Linked DNA regions of Homo sapiens: regions 1, 3 and 4 are each linked to region 2. The links come from fine-mapping of genetic effects on gene expression. A gene starts in region 2. Each other region holds a variant in brackets. All regions are shown on one strand. Distances are from middle to middle.

Region 1 (5,186 bases), 69 kb after region 2:
CGAAGTTATGAACTTTGGATAACTGGTCATGTCACTGAGAAGCTTTTATGACTGACCAAATATTACTCTTCAATGCAGGCAGAACATTCACCTTTATCTGGCTAATCAAGATTCTTTTACAGTGAATCACTTCTCTTACTTTACAACCTAACTCAGAACCCCTTACCTTGCACTCCAATCAGAACCAGCAAGATGATGCCCAAGAGGAAAAGAACACCACTTTTCTTCATAGTGATAGAATGGAGTTCCAAGTCACTCCTGTATTGGATTTTGAGCCTGAGAAATTCTTTAGAGAACACATTTTGGGGATCATATTTATTTAGGATATTCATTTCTCTCCTAAACTCTGATTGGCTAGTATCTTTAGCTGAGCTAACTAAATTGACCACAAACTTGATTGTGCTGGGGGAAACCCTAGTCTCAGATCCAAGGGAATTTCTGCATGTTTTTATTTCCATTTCACATAAATGGGTGGTTTATAGTAAGGGATGTGAAACTAGCAACACTGATAGCCTTTGGCACATTCACAGTTGCTCACCTGTGTGAAGAATAGGTTATATAATGAATATACTAATGTTATACAACAAAGGTTGGAGATGTGGTTTCCAGATGGGAAATATTAAAGTCCAGATAAATAATATACTTTTCAAATTCCCTTACTATTTATGGCATATTCTTCTGTATAATAGATGGCTACATTGATATTTTCTTATATTGCCCACTTAACAACTTAAAGCACCTTAATTTCCTCTGGGACCAGGTCATTTTCTACTAGTGGTAAGCTCATTCTGTATCATTCCTGCTACAGTATTATTTTTTAAACTAATAAATTGGTTAGAATAAGGGGTCAGTTGCATGTAAGAGACCCAAATTAACAGTGGCTAAGAAATGCAATAAAAATGAAGATAAATAGCTGGGACCTAATTAAAGAGCTTTTGCACAGCAAAAGGAACAGTCAGCAGAGTAAACAGACAACCCACAGAGTGGGAGAAAATCTTCACAATCTATATACCTGACAAAGGACTAATATCCAGAATCTAGAATGAATTCAAACAAATCATTAAGTAAAAAACAAACAATCCCATTAAAAAGTGGGCTAAGGACATCAATATACAATTCTCAAAAGAAGATACACGAATAGCCAACAAACATATGAAAAAATGCTCATCACTAATGATCAGGGAAATGCAAATCAAAACCACGGTGTGATACCACCTTACACCTGCAAGAATGGCCATAATCAAAAAATCAAAAAACAGCAGATGTTGGTGTGGACTTGGTGATCAGGGAACACTTCTACACTGCTGGTGGGAATGTAAACTAGCACAGCCGCTATGGAAAACAGTGTGGAGATTCCTTAAAGAACTAAAAAGCAGAATTACCATTTTATCCAGCAATCCCACTACTGGGTATCTACCCAGAGGAAAAGAAGTCATTATTTGAAAAATGTACTTGCACATGCATGTTTATAGCAGCACAATTCACAATTGCAAAATCATGGAACCAACCCAAATGCCCATCAATCAATGAGTGAATAAAGAAACTGTGGTTTATATATACACAATCGAATACTACTCAGTCACAAAAAGGAATGAATTAACGGCATTAGCAGTGACCTGGATGAGATTGGAGACTATTATTCTAAGTGAAGTAACTCAGGAATGGAAAACCAATCATCATCTGTTCTCACTGGTATGTGGGAGCTAAGCTATGAGGACACAAAGGCATAAGAATGATACAATGGAGTTTGGGGACTTGTGGAGAAGAGTGGGAGCGGGGTGAGGGATAAAAGACTACAAATAGGGTGCAGTGTATACTGCTTGGGTGATGGGTGAACCGAAATCTCACAAATCACCACTAAAGAACTTATTCGTGTAACCAAATACCACCTGTACCCCAATAACTTATGGAAAAATAAAAAAAAAAAAAACAACAACAGAAAACAGTGGCTAAGATAGAAGCTTATTTCTCCCTGAGAGATGTAGGTGGATTAGCACTTGGATAGTGGCTCTTTCCCATGAGGTCTTCCAGGCTTCTCCTTTCTTGTGTTGTCACCATCTCTAGATTGCTGCCCTCATGCACATGGCCAAAGGTGGCTTGCCACCATGTCCAATTTCCAGGTATAGGATGATGAGAAGGCAGAAAAAGGGCATGTCCCTCCTTTTTAGACATCCTAGAAGTTGCACCCATCATTTTCTATCACCTCCCATGGAGGCAGGCCTTAATCACATGGCTACACCTAGTTGTAGGGGAAGTTAAGAAACGTCATCTTTATTTTGGTTGACTAGCTAAAGATTGGAGATTTCCTTATTGTAAAACAATGTTTCTCAACGTTTTTTTTCATTATGGACTCAGCACTGCATGCGTGTGTGCGCGCATGTGCACCCACACACACACACACAC[C/A]CCCCCACATTTCACCTTGCTCTGAGAAAAAATAAAATGAACTGAAAACTAAATTTAATTTCTTCCTGAAGAGAGAAATCAAATGCTAAGAAATAAGATTTTGTTGGGTAGGGTTGAACCTTGGTAGGCCACTAGTCATTGCAATATCTAAAATTTTTTAGCTCTCCAAGAACCAATATTTTCCCCCTTGGGAGCAATTTACCTCTCTTCCCATTGACAATGCATGCTGTAGAATTGGAGGAAAATGGATATTAGCATTTCATGTCACATGGTGCACATTTTTTGACTGACTTCTATACAGATTATTAATACTTAAATGGAATTACAGAATTCTTTTTGAATAAAACATGTGGTGACCATTGATACAGCTTATCCATTTGCTCATGCTTAATTTTGGTACTGACTGTGGCAATGCATAGAGTGCAAATAGGTTCACGTTCCTGCTTTACCACTTAATGACTGTGTGCAAAATACTTAATTTTTGTGAGCTTCATCTCCCTCATTTAAGAAAATTATTAGACCTCACAGGGTGTTAAAATTAATGCCAAGGACGGATTGTCAACTGCAAAGCCTCACAGGGCTAGTGGCTGTTCTTTCCAGCAAAGAAAGGAGGATGGAAATTTCTTAGGATAAGAACTAAGGCCCAGCACTGTTGGTGCTACCCACCTTTCTAGCCTCTTCTTACACAGCTCTCTGCTCCCATCACTTTGTCTTCTCTCAGTTTTCTTTTCTTTTCTCCTTCTCCTTCCCCTCCCCTCTTCTTTTCTTTTCTTTTCTTTCTTTTTGAGACCGTTTTTTTTTTTTGCCCAGGCTAGAGTGCAATGGTGCAATCTCAGCTCACGGCAACTTTCGTCTCCCAGGCTCAAGCGATTCTCCTGCCTCAGCCTCCCAAGTAGCTGGGATTACAGGCATCCACCACCATGCCAGGCTAATTTCTGTATTTTTAGTAGAGACCGGGTTTCACCACGTTGCCCAGGCCGGTCTCGAACTCCTGACCTCAAGTGATCTGCCCGCCCTCCCAAAGTGCTGCAATTGCAGGCGTGAGCCACTGCACCCGGCCCTTCTCTCAGTTTTCAAAGGGGACAATGCTCCTTCCCATGGCACTGTTTTTGCTCATGCCATTCTTCTGCCTGGAGCGACTGTGCATGCTCCTCATTCCTGCCCTCCTGCATAGTAGTTACTCACCATAGTTACCCAGGCCAGCATCATTTCCCTGGGAAGACTTTCCTGAACCCCAGAGGGGCTCTCACCGCACACTTGCAGAGGCCTTGCTGAGCCCGTGTCCGCAGCAACGCTACGTTTCCCTGCAACCCTATGGTTAACATTTCCTTCCACCACTAGGCAAGGAAGGCCTGCGACGCTCCCCGTCTGAGCATGGTGCTAAACACAGTGCCTAGCACCCAGTAAGCGCACACGCATGAGGGAAGGAGCTGGGAGCTGGCTCGGCAGGTCTGGAAGTTGGATAGGGTCTGTAAAGGGCTGCCTGGCTCCAGGGGCCTCACACGCAGCGACCTCAGCCGGGCCCAAGGTGCGTGTACTGCGCATGCCCAGCCAACTGGTCTTCCAGAACCTTCTTCAGTGAGGAGGTTATACCCGGAGGTCTCGACGCTCGCTCGTGCTGCTCGTGTTGCCGCTGGGTACGTTTGCTGCCAGTGCTGATCCAGCCGGAGGCGAAGAGAAGCACTTTGGGGGCAAAAGGTAGGGGTTGTGCCTTCAGGATCTCTCCTCTCTGTCCCCTGAGCGGCCCGCAGCCTCCCCAGCCGAGATGGCCGTGCTTTTGGGGATGGGTGGGAAGGTTCTCAGCGGCGGTGGCCATGAGCGAAGAGGCCCGTTTTGCAGGTTTCACACGAGGCTTGGGTGAGGCCAGCAGGGAACGACGGCCCCAGAAGGGCCAGGGCACTGGGCTTAGGGGTAACCCTGGGCCGTGGGCTTCAGTGACTGGGAAAGAGGCCCTTCGGATAAGAGAAAGGAGGTGTTGGGGTCAGTTGGGAGTCACTGAGGCCAGATCTTATTTGTTACCCAAAAAGGGGCTAATTTTCTGAGATAGCAAGCGGAATGGGAGGGCTTCTCTCGCCTGACCCTACTTCGTGGTGAAACTGTTCTGCCATGGTAGGGTAGGGCCCCGCCCCTCTGAGCAGGCTGGGGCCGCTGCGCCCAGCTCAGGCCTGTCCAGACACTAGTTTCCTGGGCTTCGTTTAGGAACTTGTCATGCAAAGTCTGAGAGCAACCACATTCTCTCAGGAAGCAGGCAGCGGGAAGGAGAAAATCCCATTGATCGTTGCATTTATGGCTAGACAAGGCTTTTAGGAGAAACAGAAACCTGATGAGAGGATGTTGCAGGCGTTTCTCACAGCCCTGGGAATGGAGCCAAAGATGATCTAGAGTTGAAATCAACAGTTACCAATTCCTTTTTGGACAAGAATTTTAACTTCCTGTGCCTTGAAAAATTCCAGTTCTGTGTCCGTAGGGGATCCAAATGCTAATGTAACCCCAAAGAACTTTACAAAGCGGAATTCTTAGTTTTCACAAGTGTGGCCCAGCCTCCCTCTTGAATCTTTTTGGTTGTGGAATCGAGGTGTTCTGTTTAATTATCCAGTGTGACTGACTCTGTGGCAGGGACGGTAAGAGCCTTCCCTTTTTACTTGTGAGAGGAGAAGTTTCTCTCATAAAGAAACCTCCAGGCCTGTTTGAATTTCTCACAGTGTGGATTTCCCCTCCTCTCGGCAGCTGTTGTTAGTATTAAACTGACTAGAAAGGGGTTTATTTCTTGAAAGTCTTAGAAG
Region 2 (5,207 bases):
GCCACCTGACTTCCAGCAAGGTGGCCCCACTGAGGCTTGGTTTCCACATCACAAAACAGATGATACCATCTTCCCCACGGGACTGTGTTCATGAAGTGCCTGGCACCCAGTAGGCTCAATAAAGGGTAGCTAGTATTATTCTAATTCAAGAAGGCTTACTTCCAACATGAGAAGAAAGCATTTCCTTTGTTAATGCTAGTGAATTGAATGGTGCTATTAGGCAATTCAATAAATACCTTAGTATCAAATCCAAAAGTTAGAATGTTTTTACTAGAACTTTTGCTTTAATGTGTTTGAATATGGTGACTCCAACAGATGAGGGTAAAAATGATTCGTGATTTTTCATTGAGAAAGCTGTAAGTTAAAAATAGGAAAAAGTTGGAGGTAGGAGAGGGAGGTGGTAAAATTATAATAACTTAGTTCAACTGAAAAGCATGTTATTTAGCAGGCCTGTGTCTTTTCTGTGCCTGAAAGCATTTCCTGAAGAGGAAGGCAGTCCCAGTGCTTTTTAGCTTACTCTGCCTAGGTGTTCTGGGAAAATGCCTGGGCCAGTAAAGTTTCATTATTCCAAGATCTTTTCTACCCCCATCATCTTTAGGCAGCAAGAAGCTCTAAGTATGTACAAGAGGTTACGAGATGAAGCTAGTCTGCTGGCAAAACAATAAGTATTGAAGGAAGAAACCAAGTCAAAACCTCTCTTTATTCCAGGGCCTATTACTGAGCCCATAAACCTTTAGTGGTCCCCTGCACTTTGCCTGGGATCAACCACACACTCCATGTTGCTTTCACTTCTGGGTGCACTTTTTTTCTTTGATATGGAATCTCGCTTTGTCGCCCAGGCTGCAGAGTGCAATGGTGCCATCTTGGCTCACTGCAACCTCTGCCTCCTGGGTTCAAGTGATTCTCCTGCCTCGGCCTCCCAAGTAGCTGGGATTCACAGGTGCCCGCCACCAGGCCCTGGTAATTTTTTTGTATTATTAGTAGAGACGGGGTTTCACCATGTTGGCCAGGCTGGTCTTGAACTCCTGACCTCAGGTGATTCACCCGCCTCGGCCTCCCAAAGTGCTGGGATTACAGGCGTGAGCCACCGCGCCCAGCCTGGATGCACATTTTATCATGCCCACTTCCCGGTCCAAACACTGGCTGGCCCTATTAGAGCAGTGTTCCCTGTCGCCCCAGCCCTGGTGGACACAGACACTTCAGCCACGACACACATGAAAGGATAAATGCAGGGCGACAAATAAGGGCAGAGATGAGCCACTGCCAGTATAGAGCTGGAAGGCCACTGAGTTAACTAAAGGGTCCAGATGAGAGGAGGCTTAGTTTCAAAAACTTCCTGGAAAAGTACGTTTTGAGCAGAATTTTTTTTTTTTTTTTTTTGAGACAGAGTCTCGCACTGTCGCCAGGGCTGGTGTGCAGTGGCGCGATCGCGGCTCGCTGCAACCTCCGCCTCCCGGGTTCAAGTGATTCTCCTGCCTCAACCTCCTAAGTAGCTGGGATTACAGGCGCCCACCACCACGCCTGGCTAATTTTTTGTGTTTTTCGTAGAGACGGGGTTTCACTATGTTGGCCAGGCTGATCTCGAACTCCTAACCTCGTGATCTGCCCACCTTGGCCTCCCAAAGTGCTGGGATTACAGGTGTGAGCCAACGCGCCCGGCCTTTGAGCAGAATTTTAAAAGTACGCTACCTGGATTGGGGAAGAGAAAACCCGGGGCTACACGTAGAGGGAAAGTTTAGTGTTGAATCGGAGAATCTGCTTTCCCTCTCGAAGCCTACGATGTGCAGCTCAGATTTACCCAGAGAGGCAAAGAGGAAGCGCTGGAGGTTTCTAGGCAAGCAGGCACCGCCCTGTTTTTATCACACGGAAAATATGTCTCCTCCCGCTAGTCTGTGTCGGGGGCCCCCGCAAGCCCCGCGTTACTCCGCGCGGGCTTGGGGCACTCACACGGAGGACTCGTAGGCCAGGTTGACCAGAAGGCAGTCCGCCAGGCTGAGGTTCATGAAGTCACACATGCCGCGGATCTCGCCGGTGAAGGGCTGGGGCAGGAAGCGCTCCAGCTCCAGGACCACTTTTCCGATTAACACGTGCACCCACTTGGGGACTCTGTCCCTAGAAACAAAAAGCACAAGGGCGTCTGACCCGCTCAGAGGTCGGCGGCGTGCGACTGCGTGTGCACTGCGAGCGGGGCTACATCCTTAGGGCGTGAGGTCTCAGGGCCACTGCTCCCCAGTCAGTGGACCGCCCAGGCGCGGCGTCACTCAATCTGCAGCCTCCCGGGAGTGGGGGGAAGGGGGCGGGGGGAAGGCGGCGGGTAAGAAAACTCCGAATGGGGAGGGCGAGTGAGGCTGGTCCCAAAGGGGCAAGCTTGGAAGGCCCGCGAGGCCCGCAAGGAAGGCGCGGGTTGCCCCTCCTTGGTAGCTATGCAGCCCGGGCGACAACTCGCGCGCCACGCTGACCCGGAATGGCTCAAGGACTGGCGTGCCACGGGTGACACCGAACTTGAAAGCCGAACCTGCCGCGCTGGATTCTCCCCAACCCGGACGCTGCTCAGGGCGGCAGCCAAAACCAGTTCTCCAAGGGTGGCGGGGAGTAAAGCGTCCCCGTTTAAAGCACTCTGAGCAGCGCGCGTTTGACTCCGACCCGCAGGGCCGGTGTCCCCGCAGACCCCGTCCAGGGCCCCAGCTCACCCGATGACTTGCGCCATCGCGGCGCGCACCAAGTCCAAGTCGTAGTGCCGCAGCACGGGCAGCCAGCGCAGCTCGGGGACCGAGTCCAGGCTCACGTTGAAGCGCGGCGCTGCTGGGGGCGAGGCGGCTGACAGCCCGGCCCCGGCCAGCAGCAGCAGCAGCAGGGACGGAAGCCCCGGGCGCGCCTCCCGGTCCGCGGTCCGCATGGCTCGGGCTCCAGCGGCCGCAACTTGGAGACCTGCAGCCGCTGTCGGAGCCCGGGTAAGCCGTGGAGGAGGAGGAGCTGGGGCTGGGCTGCGATCGCTGGAGGTGGGGCCCGCGCACGACCCGCCCGCCCCTGTCACCGGCAAGCCGGAGCGGCGACACCTCCCGTCCCCGCCGCGCATCCACTAGCCCGCCCCGACTCTCCATCGGGCCTGGAGGTCCCTGACCGCGGGGCCGCTAAGGGTTGGGGCTGCCGGCAGCCGGCTTCTCACCAACTGCCGGTTCCAGCGCACCTGCTTGGGCCGAAGGAGTGTAGGCTGCGGCCGGGAGGGGCTGTAAGATTTTCAGTAGCGAAAAGGTGTCAGGAAAGACTTTTCAGTTAAACTTTGTTTGCTTGTTTGTTTGTTTGTTTGAGATGTAGTCTCACTCTATTGCCCAGGCTGGAGTGCGGCGGCGAGATATCCGCTCACTGCCAACTCCGCCTCCTGGGTTCAAGCGATTCTCCTGCCTCAGCCTCTCAAGTAGCTGGGATTACAGGCGTCCACCACCATACCTGGCTAATTTTTGTATTTTTGGTAGGGACAGGGTTTCACCATGTTGGCCAGACTAGTCTCGAATTCCTGACCTAAGGTGATCCACCGGCCTCAGCCTCCCAAAGTGCTGGGATTACAGGCGTGAGCCACCGCGCCTGGCTGGTAAAACATTTTTTTAAAGCTCAAAATTTAGTGAACATTTATCTGCTAAATATTTTTCGCGGACATTATCTCATTTAATCATCAAAACAAGCCAACAGGTAGGTTCCACTAATCCTCGCTTTACTGATGAGGAGTGTGAGGCTTGGAGAGGTGAAGCCATGTACCCGAGGTTACTCTGCTGGTGTGTCTCTGCACTGGCCTCCAAGTAAGGAGGTCTGAATCCACAATCCACCTTCACACCTAAGTTTCTTCACCTTTGAGTTCCCAATGTCTGGGAGACAAACTTAGGAAAATCTTAGTAAGGCTGGGACATTCTTAACGGTTAGCACAGTTGTCTGTGGGTAAAACAGGGTACATGTGTACATGAATAGTAGAAACTAAATGAAAGGGCCGGGCATGGTGGCTTAGGCTTGTAATCCCAGCAGTTTGGGGGGCTGAGGCGGGTGGATCACCTGAGGTCAGAAGTTTGAGACCAGCCTGGCCAACATGGTGAAACCCTGTCTCTACTAAAAATACAAAAATTAGCCGGGCGTGGTGGTGTAATCCCAGCTACTTGGGAGGCTGAACAGGAGAACCTCTTGAACCTGGGAGGCAGAGGTTGCAGTGAGCCGAGATTGTGCCAATGCACTCTAGCCTGAGTGACAAGAGCAAAACTTTGTCTCAAAAAAAAAAAAAAAAAAAAAAAAAAAAAAAAAAAAAAAAAAAAAAACTAAATGCATAGTAGAAACTAAACACATTTTTTTTTTATTTTTTACCAATTTTAGGATGAAGAAATACAACTTTTATAATCAATCACTTGTTTTTAAGGATAACACTTAAAGGAATTACAAAATTTCTTGCCAGACATGGTGGTTCACGCCTGTCATCCCAGCACGTTGGCTGGCTGATCATCTGAGGTCACTTGGTTTAATGAATAGAATCAGAATTGCTGGTGGTTGACTTCCAAGACTAGGTCACAAAAGACACTGTGGGTTTCTCCTTGCTCTCTTGAATTGCTCACTATAGGAAGCCCATTGTCATGTCCTGAGGAAGCCCTATGAAAATGTCCCTTTGTGGCTGGACACAAATCTCAGCACTTGGAGAGTCAGGCAGGAGGACTGCTTGAGCCCAGGAATTGGAGACCAGCCTGGGCAACAGTGAGACCCCATCTCTACAAACAAATAAAAATAAATTAGCCGGGCATGGGGGCATGTATCTTTAGTCCCAGCTACTTGGTAGGCTGAGGTAGGAGGATTACTTGAGCCCAGGAATTTGAGGCTGCAGTGAACTATGATCACGCCACTGTACTCCAGCCTAAATGACAAAGTGAGACCCTGTCTCCAAAAAAGAAGTAAATAAAATTGAAAAAAAAGAAAAAAGAAAGTCCCTTTGTTGAGGAACTGAGCTTCTACCAAGAGCCAGAGAGGAACTGAGGCTTCTTGTCAAGTCATCTGAGTGAGCCATGGTGGAAGTGGACCTTCCTGCCTCAGCTAAGCCACCCCCAAATTCCTAACCCATAGAAACTGTGAAGCAGGCCGGGCATGGTGTCTCACATCTGTAATCCCAGCACTTTGGGAGGCCGAGGCGGGCAGATCACTGGAGGTCAGGAGTTTGAGACCAGCCTGACCAACATGGTGAA
Region 3 (5,207 bases), 25 kb before region 2:
GCTTTATCTTATGTAAAATGTAGATTTACTGAGCACGAGATAAATGCATCATTGACTTTCCCTCCATTCCCTTGTTTTCATGTGCTAAATGTAGATTCACTGAGCACCAATAATAAGAGCTCACAAGAATGTAACCATTTGCCTCACTGTCTACCCTCTTTTTATCCCCCGCTCCTGCTTGCTCTTTCCCCTTTAAATACCGAAGTTCCTCAAACCCTCTTTGGGAAAAGCACAGGACAGGTCCTCCTGTGACTGGTGTTTCTTTTTCCCGGGCACATCCTTAGCCTTGGCAAAATAACTCTCTCATGGACTGAGTGCTGCTTCAGGCACATTTTCGTTTACACTTTTAACCTTTTCTGACTTCATCCTCAAGGACATTTCTTTCATGCACATGTGAAAAATCAAACTCTACCAAGCAGCTGTTCATTCCCTTGAATGCTGACACTTAAATAACATCACAACTAAGAGAGTTGCTTTCTCAGGACAGCAGTTCAGAACCATAAGACTTCGGAGGTAAAGAAAGCAGGGAGAGCATAACGCTAAGTTTCTTGGAAATTTTTTTATTCTCCTTGCCAACATTTCTTTTGACATTTTATTACTTAATTATGTGACATTAAGAAATAATTTGGTTGCATATTATTTTCAAAAAGCAGTAAGAAAGTAGCTATTGAGAAAGAAGGAGGGCCATAGGTTTTTCAATAAAACGTTAGAAACATTATAAAAAACGAGACTCCCATTACATGGAAACACATGATCAAAGATCAGACTAACACACATTCAAACAGGCTTGGTTCGAAATAGAGTTCTCCATTTCTTTCAGATGAGCCTTTTTTCTTAGGCTCTTTCAGAAGCACTTCACAATGAACAGAGGTCTTGCCAGCTCATTTCATTAGCGGAGAAGCAAAGGTATGATGGCAGAATCATGAGAAGATGGAAATAAGGCCTGAGGATATGGCTTGATCTCTGAGACCAATTATCTTTGAGTTATTCAGGCCAGGATAGAAGCTTAGAGAGGATCGAGGCAAACCATGAAGGGAAGGGAATGCAGGACAATGCCCATTACTGGCTTTACCACAAACTCCAAATCTCCTGGACCCACTTCGCAAGGTTGTAAAGTTAAATGAGGAAGGAGCCTGCATTGTTTGTAACATAATACAATACTTTCACTTTGTCTTATTTTTTAAGGTGCAGCTCTTCAAGAATTTCATTTTTTAAAAAATCATCTGTAAGGGAAGAAAAAAACGCATTTAATTCAAAGACTGATTTTTTTTTTTTTTTTAATGGAGTCTCACTCTGTTTCCCAGGCTGGAGTGCAGTGGTGTGATCTCAGCTCACTACAAACTCCACCTCCCGAGTTCAAGTGATTCTCCTACCTCAGCTCCTGAGTAGTCGGGATTTTGGGTACCCACCACCACACCTGGCTAACAGTTTTTTTGTAGTTTTAGTAGAGATGGGGTTTCACCATGTTGGCCAGGCTGGTCTTGAACTCCTGACCTCAAGTGATCTGCCTGCCTCTGCCTCTCAAAGTGCTGAAATTACAGTCATGAGCCATCACGCCCCGCCGAAGATTGGTTTTCATACAAACAATTCCAAATAAAATATCTAATGATGACAATCTGACACAAATGACAATGCCAGATGCTTGTCAGAAAATATTATATATGTATACATTTTAAGGATGTTACCACCCTCTGTAAGAAATACCAGCACACACCCACCTCACCCCCTCTCCACAAAACAGTAACAACAAACCTTTCACAGCACGGGCGAACTCGCTCTTCTGCTGACTTACTTTCTACTCGGGTTTCTGATCCTAGTCATGTACTTGTCTGGGCTACCGGCGCTCATTACCGTAGTATAAATTGTGAAGCTGAAAATTATGAGGAAATTTTATGTACACATCATTTTCTCTAATATGCCAGAAAGGGAAGAAAATGACCAAGTGCTTCCCTAACACTTGAGATCTGGGACAAGGCCCTTTATGCCAGAATATTTTAAATCTATGAATCAAGAGGTCAAAGTGCACTTTCCTCCTATTTTGACAACACTGTGGAAGGCCAAGTTGGAACTTAAAATTCTCAGACTTAATTAGCTGGGTGTGGTGGTGCCTGAAATCCCAGCTACTAGGGAGGCTGAGGCAGGAGAATTGCTTAAACTTGGGAGGCAGAGGTTGCACTGAGCTGAGATTGCGCCACTGCACTCCAGCCTGGGCAACAGAGTGAGACTCTGTCTCATAAAAAATAAATAAATAAAATCTCAAGACTCCTCAGAGCTCTACCCCAAGGCAGTGGGGGAGACCAAGCCTTGGCCCTCACCCTGGCTCTGTCCTACCCACAAGGGCCTTACTTGCACACATGTGACATCACCGCCTTCACATTCCCCAGCAAGCACCTGCCCCTGTGCTC[T/C]CTCTCAGTGGCCATGCACCACCATCAGGAGAATATCACCCAGGGAAGAGGAAAACACAAACCCTGGAAGTGGAGGTGGGGCTGTTCAGGCTGAGAATTACAGGGTCCTGGGTACTTGGGCAGACTCCAGGTGGGCAAATGCCCTTGGTCCAGCAGATTCCTTACACCATGCTTTGGGGGGGTGGTATCACAACTAGAGGAATTCCAGAGGAGGGCCTCTAAAGCTCCAGGATCAAGGCACCTGCCCCGCCCCTCCACCTTGCCCAGATCTAAGGATGAAAAGTATAGTGTCATTGATTACACATTCCGTATAACAAGAGACCTAAACAACTTGAGCACATGTGCCCACATGTACACACATTTGTCTTGGAATCCAGTTGAGGTGCATGTGCAAAATATCGGAGCTGGGTTGTTCAGAAACAGGCAGAATTAGTAGCACTGGGTCCACAGCTAAATCATACACCCAGTTAAAGACAGCACTGTAAGCAAGTGCAGAGCTCGTCCAAGGGTAATGGAGGTTCCCTGAACAGGACCTTAATTGCTCGTTTACTTTAGTCATAGTTCTGCTCTCCATTACTGTTTTAGTATTTTCTCTACTGATGAGCCACAGCAGAGGATGGAGATGTATTGCAGGTGGGTGTAATTTTGCAGCATGGCACAAAGGGGCAGCATAGAGCTAACTGCCTTTGTTCAGACTACTTTTTTGTTGTTTCTTTTTCTTTTTTTCAGATACAGCTACACTTATTTCTATTAACCTAATACAACTGAACAGCCTCAGTTGAGGTTAATCATTACATGTAAAGGGCCTGAGAGTCAGAAGTCTGTGTTAATTCTGGCTCCATGGTGATTGTCACTTAAAAGCAGTTTCTCTTGAATTTTCAAGTATACAACAGAGAAAAACACTACTTGGTAAACTGTTTATAATTTCTAACAATTTTATTTTGACCAAACCATTTCAGAAACCATTTAAACATTCATAACTGTTAACTCAGTAATCCTACTTCTGGGAATTCAGCCAAGGGAAATAATCTGAAAGTAAGCAGGGGAGAGGCAAACGAATATGTTTATTTCAGAGTTTTAATAGAGGAAAATCTAACAACTGGAGAATGCTTAACTCAATTATAATACAGCCAACTGGCCACTGCCACCATGTAAAATTATGAGGGCTGTTCAAAGCAGAGAAAATGCTTTGTTTTATTAAAATAAATGTAACTATTTTATTATAATACTAATTTTTAAAAGATATATTCATCACTTCTTTTTTTTTTTTTTTTTTTTTTTTTTTAAGACGGAGTCTCCCTCTGTCGCCCAGGCTGGAGTGCAATCTCAGCTCACTGCAACCTCTGTCTCCCGGATTCGAGTGATTTTCCTGCCTCCACCTCCCAAGTAGCTGGGATTACAGGCACGCACCATGACGCCTGGCTAATTTTTGTATTTTTAGTAGAGATGAGGTTTCACCATGTTGGCCAGGCTGGTCTCGAACTCCTGACCTCAAGTGATCCACCCGCCTCGGCTTCCAAAGTACTAGGATTACAGATGTGAGCCACTGCGCCCAGCCAGATATATTCATCACTTCTATAATTACCTAAAAAAACTATAAGAACACAAAAGTAGTTTATTAACCCCCATTTAAAAAATGACTATTAAAAGGGCAACATTGTGCCCCGCTATGAAGGGTACAGTCAATAGTGCATTGGAGCTAGCTCCTACAGTCTGGTGAGGGCCAATTATTAAATATGCAGGAAGTGTATGAGCCAACTATAAGCCTGAAATCAGCCATGTGGGAGTATTCACACCATGGAAGTCAACAAATGCTACAAATTTGGGAATTTTTTCATTTGTCCCTTCCCACACAAAGAGCTGGTTTACTAGCAGACCACTGGGTATGCTTTGTTATCCAAATAGCTCATTTGTTTGAGTAGCAGAATACTGACTAATTAGTTTTCTTTTCTTTTTTTTTTTGAAACAGAGTCTCGCTCTGTTGCCCAGGCTAGACTGCCATGGCATGATCTCAGCTCACTTGCAGCCTCGACTTCCCAGGTTCAAGCAATTCTCCAGCCGCTGCTTCCCAAGTAGCTGTGATAACAGGCGTGCACCGTCATGCCTGGTTGATTTTTGTATTTTTAGTAGAGACGAGGTTTCACCATGTTGGCCAGGCTGGTCTTGAACTCCTGACCTCAAGTGATCCACCCGCCTTGGCCTCCCAAAGGGCTGGGATTACAGGCGTGAGCCACCGCACCTGGCCTGCTTTCACTTAAAAAAAAAAAAAAAAGAAAAAGAAATTAAAAAGAATGTGAGTAAAATCCTAGGCTATACACTAGAGAAACCATTGCTCACAGAATGCTGCTATCAAGGGTACAGGCTAAAAAAGAACATTAACTAAGCGAATTGTCAGTGGAACAAGGAACAGCTTCGGAGATAGTGGAAATTCCTCCGGAGGATAAAAGAAAACCAAAGGTATTCAGAATTTATTTCTAAGGAGCTCCTAACAGGTGAAGGCTGTCCACAGCTACCTGACTGAGTTAGGATGAACACCTCACTGCCAGAATATTTCAAATGTAGGAATCAAGAGGTCAGCCAGTCAAAGTGTTTTTCCTTCTAGTTTGACAACACTATGGAAGGCCAAGTTTGAATTTAAGATTCCCAGAGCTGGCCGGGCGCAGTGGCTCACTCCTGTAATCCCAGCAATTTGGGAGGCCGAGGTGGGCAGATCATGAGGTCAGGAGATCAAGGCCATCCTGGCTAAAACGGTGAAACCCTGTCCCTACTTAAAAAATACAAAAAATTAGCTGGGCGTGGTGG
Region 4 (5,207 bases), 36 kb before region 2:
CAGGTGATGAGTACATCCACCCAACGTGGGTGAGACCCCTTCTCCTTCTAGAATTTGACTTAGCATCATCAATGCCTCACATTATCATGAAAAACAAAAATTAGCTAGGGGTGGTAGTGCAGCATGCCTGTGGTTCCAGCTACTCAGGAGGCTGAAGTGAGAAGACTGCTTGAGCCCAGGAGTTCGAGGCTGTAGTGTGCTATGATTGCACTTATGAACAGCCACTGCACTCCAGTCTGGGCAACATAGTGAGACTCTGTCTCTTAGGTGGAAAAAAAAAGTGTTTATCTGTCCACTAAGTGAGCCCAAGAAATCCAGGGCAGAATGGTCACCCAGCACTTGAAGATCTCATCACACAGATAGCAAAGACCCCATCTGGATGAGTTGATAGATAACAGAGGAGCTGTCTTTGACCTTTGTCTCAAAACAACTCTGTATTTATTTCCTAGGTAAAAACATAAGTGTCGCCCTCCTGTTCTCACCCATTTCTACTTTAGGCTAGACAGAAAGTTCTTACCTTCTTTGCTGGGTTTTTTATTTACCATGAGACACAACAAGGCAGAAATCTCTTTAACATGCAGGCGTGATCCCCATCCTGTCTTCAGAGTTGGCTGAGGGATCCCAGGCTGATCTGATTTCTTTCAGACCTACAGAGCCCATAAAGAAGGTGCAGCCCTAGTCTGCCATGTCTTCTTCCTGAAAAGCAATGGTGACATTCACAGCCCTGGCCAAGTATTCACAGTGACAGGAAGGAAAGTTCAGGCTTCTTGCCTCGAAGGAGTAGGCACCCCCTGACGTCAGTCAGATCAGGCCCCCAAGGAAGATTTGAAGGGGGCGACTGCATAGTCGGGGTATCTCCCATATACCCAAGGAGATGGGTTTCTCTAACAGCACCCACGTCAGTCCTAAATCTTCTTACTCTCCTGGATTAGAAGACTGTGTTTCCCAGGCCACATCTGAGAAGCCTGAGCTCCTTAGCCCTGAAATAGCAGAGTGCTGACAAGACACAGGGGCCTAGGGGCTCTGGAGTCCAAGGGGAGTCCTCAGCAGAAGACACATAGGAGGCATTCTTTGTTGGGGCTGGCTTTTCTGTTTGCAAAGCCTGCTTGAAATATCCTGCCCTTTCTATGGACACTTTCCTTAGGATATAACCTAATCTGTGGTTAATCACTATTCTTGGACAACTTACTTTTTCAGTTAATCTAAGATGCTCGTGTGTGTGTTCTGGTAGGTACTAAATGCACCATGGAAATTCTCAAAGAAAGTGATATTCTGTTTGTCTATATCTAGTAGGTCAAGTTTGTTCATTATTATTATTATTATTATTATTATTTTGAGACAGTCTTGCTCTGTCGCCCAGACTGGAGTGCAGTGGCACAATCTCAGCTCACTGTAACCTCTGCCTCCTGGGTTCAGGCAATTCTCATGCCTCAGCATCCCGAGTAGCTGGGATTACAGGCACCCCCGCTGCCATGGCCAGCTAGTCTTTCTATTTTTAGTAGAGACAGGGTTTCTCCATGTTGGCCAGGCTGGTCTCCAACTCCTGGCCTCAAGTGATCTGCCCACCTCAGCCTCCCAAAGTGCTGGGATTACAGGTGTGAGCCTCCACACCCGGCCTAAATTTGTTAATTATATTAATTCAGATCCTCTTTATCTTTGTTTATTCTTCCTGATCTGACCATCTTTGAAAGAGGTATTTTGAAGATTTCTATGACAAGTACAGATTTAGCAAATTCTCCTTGTATTTGAGTCTTTGCATTACACGTTTTGAAGCTATATAATTAGATATTAAATTTAAACCATGTAAAATTGCCATCGGCAACTGTGTAATTACACATGAAGCCGTATTGTCATTTAACTGTCTTGGTAGAGGGTGACATAAAAATTAAATATCACTCTGCCTTTTAAAATTCTTTTTGCATTTGATTCTCTTTTGTCTGATATTAACATTTTCACATTAGCTTAGTTTTTGTTAGTGGCTGACTGCTAACATTCTTTCTCCAAGTTGACTAAAAGACTGATAAAATCCTGTATTACTGAGAGTATGAGAAAAAGGACCCTCTCCATATACTATTGCTGGGATCGTTAAAATGTTTCATTTTGGGGGAATTAAATTAAATTTTAATTGTAATTTATTAAATTACATACTTAAAATATGTAAATCCTTTAATCTAGAAATTATACTTCTAAGTATCTTACAGAATTATACACCCATGCAAAAATCTATATAAGGATTTTTATTACTGTATAATTTGTGATTAGGAAAAGTTGGA[A/G]AATAACCTAAGATATTTTTTTATGTGGTATTACCCATATTTTCTAGTTTCCATATTGATGCTTTGACATTTTGGGGCCTTGTTGACCAGGGAGAGACTACACCTCCTGGGATTAGCTGATCCCTGAGATGCAAACTAACCAATCTAGAGCCCTACCACCAAATCCCTCCTTTTTTGGACTTTCATACTCAAGGCCGTTATCTCTCTACCCTAATCACCCTGACATCATATATCAGACAACTCAGTGCAGTCTACAGTCAGGAGTCAGCTGACACTATTCCAACTAGCTAGTCCTCCACCTGCTTAGCCGCCTTACCCTGCCTCACCCATTCCTTCCCTCGAAAACCACAGTTCTCCTGTCCTCTGCCTGTGACCAACCTCAGTGTTCTCTCCCGTGGCTGTGCAGGTGTGACCTCTCCTCTTGGGAACGAGGAGTAATAAGCTATCTTTTAAATGGCAATTGTCCCCTGATCTGTTGGCCTTATCATACCTGAATAAAAATAGAATCTACATTTTAAAACGTTTATGCATTTTTAAATGTCTTAATGAGTACAGATGGCAGTTATCACTAGGGGTACTCATGGGGAGAGTGCCATCCACAAGTGGGGAAGAGAGGCAGAGGATCACATTATGTACTGTTTGATTTATTTTTATATTAGAAATCTGTTACTTGTGTTCTTATTATTATTATTTTTTTTTTTTTGAGACAGAGTTTCGCTCTTGTTGCCCAGGCTGGAGTGCAATGGCGCAATCTCGGCTTACTGCAACCTCTGCTTCCTGGGTTCAAGCGATTCTCCTGCCTCAGCTTCCTGAGTAGCTGGGATTACAGGCATGTGCCACCATACCTGGCTAATTTTTTATTTTTAGTGGACACAGGGTTTCTCCATGTTGGTCAGGCTGGTCTTGAACTCCTGACCTCAGGTGACCCGCCAGCCTCAGCCTCCCAAAGTGCTGGTATTACAGGCGTGAGCATGGTGATGCCCAGTCACTTGTGTACTTTTTAAAAACAGAATATTTTGAAAACCAGCTCTCTCCATCTGCCATGAAAGCTCTGTAGGCCAAGCCATTTTTATTTAAAAATATATATATATTTTTTGAGAACGGGTCTTACTTGCCCAGGCTGGTATTTGCAGTGGCACAATCACAGCTCACTGCTGCCTTGACCTTCCCGGACTCAGGCAATCCTCTTGCCTCAGCCTCCCAAGTAGCTGGGACCACAGGCATGTGCCACCATACCCACCTAATTTTTGTATTTTTTGTAGAGATGGGGTTTTGCTATGTTGTCTAGGCTGGTCTTGAGCTCATGCAATCCACCTGTCTCGGCCTCCCAAAGTGCTGGGATTACAGGTGTGAGCTGCTGCGCCCAGCCAAAATTTTTTAAATAAAATTTTCAATTTTATTTATTTATTTATTTATTTTAGGCCAGGCGTGGTGGCTCATGCTTGTAATCTCAGCACGTGAAAGGCCGAGGTGGGTGGATCACTTGAGGTCAGGAATTCAAGACCAGCCAGGCCAACACGGCAAAAGCCTGTCTCTACAAAAAATACAAAAAATTAGCAGGGGATGGTGGTGTGTGTCTGTAGTCCCAGCTATTGCAGTGAGCAGAGATCACACCACTGCACTCTGGCCTGGGCAACTGAGTGAGATGCTGTCTCAAAATAAAAAAATAAATTTTAACTTTTTAATTAAAAAATTTTATTGCCTCTTGTTTTTAAAATTTATTTTATTTTGGTAAGAACACAACATGAAATCTACCCTTTTAACAGATTTTCTTCTTTTTTTGAGACAGGATCCCACTCTGTCACCCAGGGTAGAATGCAATGGCATGACCACAGTTCATTGCAGCCTCGACCTCCCAGGCTCAAGTGATCCTCCCACCTCTGCCTCTTAAGTACTTGGGACTACAGGCACACATCACCACTCCCAGCTAATATTTTTATTTTTGTAGAGACAGAGGTCTCACTATGTTGCCCAAGCTGGTCTCAAACTCATAGACCCAGGCAATCTTCCTGATATGAACAGGAGACGGGGAAATACTGGAAAGTTATTTATTTTGTTTGATTTATTTACCTGCCAAAAGCCCCACCCTCAAGCCTGGAAACCCGAGGCCCCAAATGGGAACAGGCATTCCTGTTTTCGTGCCCAAATGTTGCATCTTGGCCCGCCACACCCCACATCCTGTACCCATATAAACCCCGAATCCCTGGGTCCATGAGGAGATGAGCAGAAGAGCCAAAGAACTGAAGAACGGCATGGCAGAGAAGGAGCATCTGAATATCTAGAGGAGTCCAGCTGGGGACAGTTGGAGAGGAGTTCTGCCACAGGACTGCTGAACTCCAAGGGAAGATCATCTTTCCACTCCGTCCCCGTTCCAGCTCCCCATCCATCCTGCTGAGAGCCACCTCCACCACTCAATAAAACCCCCATATTCACCACTCTTCAAGTCTGTGTGTAACCTGATTCTTTCTGGGTGCTGGACAAGGGCCCGGGTACCAAGGGGACACTGAGCTGGTTAACACTTAAGCCATCTGTGGATGGCAGAGTTAAAAGAGCACTGTAGCATGCCTACTGGGGCTTCAGGAGTCAAAGCACCACCCCTAGAAGCTGCCCTGGGGCCAGAGCCCAAAAGCGCTCACTCTGGTTCCTGCACCTGCCTGTCTGTATCCTCCCGCTCCTATAAGGGGTTTGAGCTTGTGGCAGCTGAACAGAGATCAACACCCCTGTTGAGTGTCCTGCAAGGGGAGCCAGGGAACTCTCCTGTTTCACCCCCACCTCCGCCTCCTAAAGTGCTGTGATTATAAGATAAACCACCACGCCTGGCCTCTTAACAGATTTTTAAGTGTACAATAGGCACGACGTACAGATCTCTAGAAGTTATTCACCTTGTATAAATGAAACTTTACACCAGTTGAATGGCAACTTCCTATTTCCCCA

The links. PIP is the estimated chance that this variant, and not a neighbour inherited with it, causes the effect.
Region 1: its variant is fine-mapped to the expression of NAAA in esophagus mucosa (GTEx, PIP 0.91).
Region 3: its variant is fine-mapped to the expression of NAAA in tibial nerve (GTEx, PIP 0.95).
Region 4: its variant is fine-mapped to the expression of NAAA in whole blood (TOPMed, PIP 0.95).

What each region holds. Positions count from the first base shown.
Region 1 is chr4:76,007,220-76,012,405 of GRCh38, forward strand. CXCL9 (C-X-C motif chemokine ligand 9) reads right to left here and starts at 290. Exons shown (of 4, transcript NM_002416.3): 1 at 167-290. The coding sequence starts at 230. It also overlaps a transcript of ART3 not described here. RefSeq lists enhancers at 3,901-4,545, 4,833-4,892. The variant C/A (reference allele first, on the strand shown) is at 2,404.
Region 2 is chr4:75,938,054-75,943,260 of GRCh38, forward strand. It overlaps NAAA (N-acylethanolamine acid amidase), which reads right to left and starts at 2,960. Exons shown (of 11, transcript NM_014435.4): 1 at 2,691-2,960; 2 at 1,948-2,112. The coding sequence starts at 2,896. RefSeq lists silencers at 2,243-2,312, 2,713-3,182.
Region 3 is chr4:75,913,116-75,918,322 of GRCh38, forward strand. NAAA (N-acylethanolamine acid amidase) reads right to left here. Exons shown (of 11, transcript NM_014435.4): 10 at 1,753-1,870; 11 at 545-1,223. The coding sequence ends at 1,789. Among named protein-coding and RNA genes, the nearest start is that of PPEF2, 13 kb to the left of the region's middle. RefSeq lists an enhancer at 2,963-3,012. The variant T/C (reference allele first, on the strand shown) is at 2,406.
Region 4 is chr4:75,901,713-75,906,919 of GRCh38, forward strand. PPEF2 (protein phosphatase with EF-hand domain 2) reads right to left here and starts at 740. Exons shown (of 17, transcript NM_006239.3): 1 at 518-740. The variant A/G (reference allele first, on the strand shown) is at 2,274.